2 separate regions of the Homo sapiens genome follow, and region 2 is reported to be linked to region 1. The links are microRNA targets in miRTarBase. Many come from high-throughput screens and were not tested one by one. Region 1 holds a microRNA gene; the other region holds the end of a gene's coding sequence.
The links. Region 1 holds the annotated microRNA hsa-miR-3934-5p (UCAGGUGUGGAAACUGAGGCAG, at 1,602-1,623, shown strand). A microRNA usually pairs through its seed, bases 2 to 8, with sites in the 3' UTR of a target mRNA and lowers its output. Matches are read on the target gene's strand: a 7mer-m8 pairs with bases 2 to 8, a 7mer-A1 pairs with bases 2 to 7 and ends in A, and an 8mer does both.

Region 2: miRTarBase lists BHMT2 as a target of hsa-miR-3934-5p. Seed matches in the 3' UTR shown: 7mer-m8 at 2,237-2,243 and 7mer-A1 at 2,194-2,200.

The regions. Positions count from the first base shown.
Region 1 is chr6:33,696,551-33,699,550 of GRCh38, forward strand. It overlaps MIR3934 (microRNA 3934), which reads left to right and starts at 1,578; the gene lies at 1,578-1,684. It overlaps ITPR3 (inositol 1,4,5-trisphosphate receptor type 3), which reads left to right. Exons shown (of 58, transcript NM_002224.4): 58 at 1-12. UQCC2 (ubiquinol-cytochrome c reductase complex assembly factor 2) reads right to left here. Exons shown (of 4, transcript NM_032340.4): 4 at 214-1,200. The coding sequence ends at 1,103. RefSeq lists an enhancer at 1,006-1,981.
Region 2 is chr5:79,088,349-79,091,430 of GRCh38, reverse strand. BHMT2 (betaine--homocysteine S-methyltransferase 2) reads right to left here. Exons shown (of 8, transcript NM_017614.5): 8 at 1,362-2,938. The coding sequence ends at 2,857. Among named protein-coding and RNA genes, the nearest start is that of BHMT2, 20 kb to the right of the region's middle.

The DNA of each region.
Region 1 (3,000 bases):
AATAGAAATCTAGTCCGTTAAAAAGGGATGTGTTTCCTGCACTCCCCCGGGGGCTGTGGGGATTAACAGGACACACTGGCAGAAGACAGGAACAAGAGCCCCTCCCTGCTGGCCTGGCCTCTCAGGCTCTCAGGAGATACGCTGAGTGACATCCTGTCTCAAGGGTCCTCCCCTGAGATTTGCCTACCCAGAACTGCATTTCGGCATAACTGGTTTCTACGGCAGTCCTGTCGATTTTATTTTATGCATTTCAGAACATCCTGAGGAGTCTAGACACAGACGAGGTTAAGAACCCACTTCCACTTTGTACCCACCAGGGCCGCTGTGGGCCCAGCCCTGTCCCTCACGGTTCCAGAGAGAAGGATGCTCAATATCAGTAAGAGCCAAGGTTCCATGGAATAATGAGGTGACCCTGTGTGTGTCCTCAGCCAGCAGGGCCTCTGACTTGTGGCCACCTACAGAACCTGCCCACAGTGCTGAAGCCAACTGCAGCTGAGGCCCCGCTTGGCCAAGGCCTGTCTATAGCTTCCCTGTCCCTTAAGCCAACTGGGCAATGTGGGTTTTTGCAAGGTCAGGGATAGAGGCCTAAGGTCCATCCTTCTCTGAGTCAGTGGGGATGAGGGCCAAGCAGGCTTTTTGCCTCTCTCGGCCTCACACCTCCCTACTGCTTTCTGTTTGCAACAGGATGCCCTTTTCAGTATTTACTGCTATTTTTGGCTTCCTCCCAGGAGCTCCTACAACAAAAGGGAGCCTGAGTATCTTGCCAGGAGACACCAGACCCGTGCCAGAGGGGCGGGGGCTCCCGTGGCAATGCAGGAAGCACCTTGTGCCGAGGCCCCATTACCCTCATCAGGCCCAGAGGGAAACCTGCATTTCCTCTCCCCAGGAGATTTCCCTACCCTGAGCAGCAGTCACAGCAGATAGCTCAATCACCATCCCTTCTCAGGCTGAAACTTTCTTTAGAGCAGCAAGGGCTTCCTTTCTGGGAAAGCTAGAGGAGATTCCCAAACCGTAAGGTCAAGGGGAAACTGGGGCAGTTTTATTGACGATGGCAATGTACAAGACTCCACACCTAGGTATGTGCACGAGGTAAGGCCTGAGCTCAGGCCTTATGATCCTCCTCAGGACCCTTGGGGGCAAACTTCTCCTGCAGTTTCTTCCACATGCCTTTATCTATTTCCTTAAGCTCTTCCAAGGTGTCTGCAAAAGGGGAAGACAAAAAGAGAGAGGGACTGAAGTCTAAAACTTGATGACATAGATTGGACCCACTGGGCTTTCCCGACACAAGCATGGCTTGCTTTTCACACAGTGTGTTCCTGAAAAAGGTGGAGACCCAGCTCCTGAAGAGCAGATCAAACAGGTAACAGAAGTGACCGCTTGCGGGGACTGAGCACTGTGTGCCAGACTCTGTGCCCAGCACGCTGTCAGTGGTCTCCTGCCCTCTCCTCACCCTCGGCATCAAAGCGGGATGTGCTGCTCGTTGCCCTGCTCCGTATGAGGGCAAAGAAATGGCCCTGCGCTGTCCGCTGTGCAACCCACAGACCCAGATGCTTCATCGCAAAATTTGGCCTGCTCCACACAGCCCTTCCTGTCCCCAGTTTTCAGGTGTGGAAACTGAGGCAGGAGGCAGTGAAGTAACTTGCTCAGGTTGCACAGCTGGGAAGTGGAGCAGGGATTTGAATCCTGGTGTGTGGACTCAGCACATGCTGTGGAGTTGAGCAGGCACTGGGAGGGGGATGGCCTTGGGCCTGAATCCGAGCCCATCATCTCCCACTCTGGGTCCCCTCAAGCAAATTACTTAACCCTCTACGCTTCGGGTTCCTCATCTGTAAAATGAAGATAAAAACACACATCTGCAGACAACTTGGGGAGAGGTGAAAAAGTAAGAAAAAAAAAACCACACGTACCTCAAAAGTTGTAAGGATTAAAGAAAAGCATGGAGGTAACTCGCTTGGCACACAGCCCGCACTCAATGAAAAGGCAGCCATCATCCACCACAATGCAGGCGGGAGGGGCTCTTGTTTAAGAACATACACGTCCCTACACCCAGGAACCAAAGCAGGGTTTCTTGGCCTTGGCACTACCAACACTTTGGGCCAGATAATTTTTCGTCGTGGGCTGGCCTGTGCATCACTGAAGGCTGTTTCAAAGCATCCTGGCCTCTACCCACTAATGCCAGTAGCACCGCTGCCCGCACCACCAGTTGTGACAACTAAAAATGTCTCCAGACATTGCCACATGTCCCCTGGGGGGCAAAACCATCCCCCCAGTACGGAACCATTTGTCTAAAGTCTCTAGGGCTAATGTTCCATGAAATCTAATTTTACGTGCATGTTAAATTTTAGATATTCTTATAATATTGTTTTGCTTTACCAGCCTAAATTTTCACGTTAACAAAACTACTGGAGAAAAAAAGAGTATCTTTTCTGACCAAAAAAGGTAACAGAAAAAAGCCCCTGCTCTGGAGCTTTTCCAGAAGTCCATGTTTCCAGTGTCCAGGTGGACACTGAGGCCTCCCTTAGGCGCTTTCCATGACCCCAATCCCAGGGTGGACACACACATAACCCAGAACACAGCACATTTCAGACTTGCCAGGCCCTCAAAGCCTCTCACTACAAGGTGCTGCAGGTCTTTTCTTGTCCTGTCAGAGGAAACATTTGGTAAGCTTACGCCACACAATTTGCAACAAAAATATGAGGCTTGCTGTGAAAACAAATTCTCAGCAAATTTCCTGAACTAAACTCGCTGCCAGAACAAGCTGCAGCGCGGACCAATGGCGGGACTATCTCCCAGCCTTCGTTGCTGCCTGTTTTCCACTTGCAGAGGCTGCCCTGAGGTGAACAAAACAGAGGGCAGAGGCAGGGCCTCTGGAACTTACTTCCGCCCTCACTTCAAGTTCAAACTTTGCTCAAACTGTCCAGGGCCCTCACAATAATGTGCATCAATGCTGCTAATTACACGGACCCAGGGATATAGGAGTAAATTTACACATTAAAAAAA
Region 2 (3,082 bases), not on the chromosome of region 1:
AAAGCCTTTGTTTGTGCTGGTGCAGACCCAAGGAAGGGATTCGGTGTGGAGACATCTCTCCCTCCTAATGTACCTTCTTCACTCTTGCTATTCTCATGATGTCCTGCACTGCCCTCTCCACAAAATCTATGAAGCAAGCAGGAGATATTGTGTAAACGGTCCTCCCCTGGAATGTGGTGTTCAGGACTACATACTAAAAATAAGCAGAGGCTTTGGTACCAGAGTGTTCCCAGAAGACAGTCACCATGAGGATGAGGGGATTGGAAACCAAGTCAACATAATTATATTATACTATATAATGTGCAATGAATGCCTGTTATACGACATGCACTGTTTCTAAGAAACTTATCTCATTTAATCCTCATAGCACCCTAATAAGGATGGTTCTATTTTACCCTCATTTTACAGATGAGGAAATTAAGGCATAAAGCTTAAGTAACTGTACAGTGTCACACAGGTAGATTTGACAAAGCACATCTTAGCCTATGCCTTTTAGTTGAAGGAAATGAGGACAAGTAAGTATAGGAAAGCCATACAGCTATCTTTAAATTTCAAAGAGTTATATGGAAGAAATTATAAATTTGCACTTTAGGTGCTCCAAGTCTGCAGGTGAGGGTCATTAATAAATAGATTTCTAGTTAATACATGGAATAACTTTCCAGAGAATGAAGTGTTTCTTAAAAAGGAGTAAGTGATCTCGAGAGGTAGTGAGTTACTATTTAAGGGATTCAAACAGGGACTGGATGGTCCTGATGAAGATGCTGGCGAGGATATTCAGGTATTTAATTGGTGGTTTGGATTAGTCACCCTTAAGGACCCCAAAGGCCTTGAGATAATAGTAAATGATTCACTTTCTAATTTCCAGCAGGGTGGGGTTGTGTATTATGGGTAAAGTGGCTATATCAAATAAATTCCAGGTTGTCAACATTACAGAAACAGTCATGGCAGGTTTGAAGAGTTAATTCATAATAAGGAAAGTTGATAAAAAATACTTTGAATCCAGCGACAGAAAAATTTGGATAGATTTTTGACAAAAAGCAGCAGCTGTGTGCATGACAGATGCCGTGTAGTGCAGTAGCTAAGGGCATGGATTCTAGAGCCAGCCCCATGGGTTCAAATCCAAATTTACTAATTTCACATTTACTAGTTGTGTGACCTCAGGCAAGTTACCTAGCCTCCTTAAACTTCAGTTTCCTTACCTGTAAACTACTGTGTTAAACACTATCTAATTTTGAATCCCTGTTGGGGGGTATATGTAGATGAGATCATCTTTAGAACAAAGACTGCGACATAGTGAGTAATAAATATTTGCTAGTATTATTCCAAAGAATGTTCATGACATTTTCGACATTCAAACACTATAAAAGGTAAATCATTTTTATTGCCACAAATTGATAAATTGTTGTGAAAAAAAGAGAAACTGGCACACATGAAATAACACAAACATAAGAAGATATAAGACCAAAATAGATTTGAATTATGTCTCCCAGGCTGGATTGCAGTGGGGCGATCTCAGCTCACTGCAACCTCTGCCTCCCAGGTTCAAGCAATTCTCATGCCTCAGCCTCCAAGTAGCTGGGATTACAGGCATGCACCACCATGCCTGGATAATTTTTGTATTTTATTTAGTAGAGATGGGGTTTTGCCATGTTGGCCAGGCTGGCCTTGAACTCTTGACCCAAGTGATCTGCCCGCCCTGGCCTCCCAAAGTGCTGGGATTATAGGTGTCAGCCTGTGCCCCTGGCCTAAACTCTGACTTTTGAAAAGGTTTTCTAAAACTTTATTTTTAAACAATCAACAATAAGTATTTCACTGTGCACCTATTAGTATGTCTAACACAATGCTAAGTAAGGGGAATTATGAGAAGATTATAAGCTTATCACGTGATCTTGTCTTTAAATAGTTTATAACCTAGCTACCTATGATTATGAAGACACATTTTAAAAATTCTAGGACCTAATATCTTTTTTTTTTTTTTTTGAGATGGAGTCTCACTCTGTCACCCAGGCTGAAGTGCAATGGCCTGATCTCGGCTCACTGCAAGCTCCGCCTCCTGGGTTCAAGCGATTCTCCTGCCTCAGCCTCCCGAGTAGCTGGGATTACAGGCACCCGCCATCATGCCCGGCTAATTTTTGTATTTTGGTAGAGACAGGGTTTCACCATGTTGGTCAGGCTGGTCTTGAACTGCTGACCTCAGGTGATCCGCCCGCCTCGGCCTCCCAAAGTGCTGGGATTGCAGGTGTGAGTCACTTCGCCTGGCCAGACCTAATATCTTTAAGTAAAAATCATCTTTGAAAGTAATCACTTTGGATAGTTAAACATTTATTTCAATAATGCTACCATTGCTCAAAACATTCTTTACATCTTTTCTTTGGGATTGCCTTTGGAGTCATTGTATAAATCATTAAAAAAAGCAGACTCATTGCTTTAGTTTAGTGTTGCTCTATCATCCTCAAGTATCTAGCTTAGTCACTTGAATTATTCACTAGCTTTGGGTCTCAGTGACTTCTGATTATTTTAAAGTGTCAAATTCACCCTCAAAGACAAGTTTGGCTATTCTTCATGATCTTCAAAGGAATGCACCACAGCATGATTGGACAGTAAGTTCTTGGAGAACAAGGTGCCTCTCTCGCTTCTCTTTGCATCTCTGGTAGAGTCTGTTGCAGTGCTTAACCACAGCAGGAGCTCAATATGCACACACTTGTGGGCTGGAAGGGAAGGGGCTGCAGCACCTCAGCTGCTCAGCAGCTGGAGATAGCAGGGCATGGTGAGGATGAAGGTGAGGAACGGTTCCAGGTCAGGCTTGAGGGCAACTTTTTCCTGTTCGATTATTTCAGGGTTTTCTTTCACTACTCCTTAGAAGTCTGGCTTTGACAGCGAAGGACAGAAAGGTCTGCCTGAAGCTGGCAGCAGATTCTCCCAATACTCCCTTCGAGCCCTGTGTTTCAATATATACATAATTAATTAATTAAAAGTCTTACCTATAAGTCCAATATGTCATATATGTATATATGTATGTATATGTATATAACCACACACACACACACACACACACACACACACACACACACAGTCAAAACTT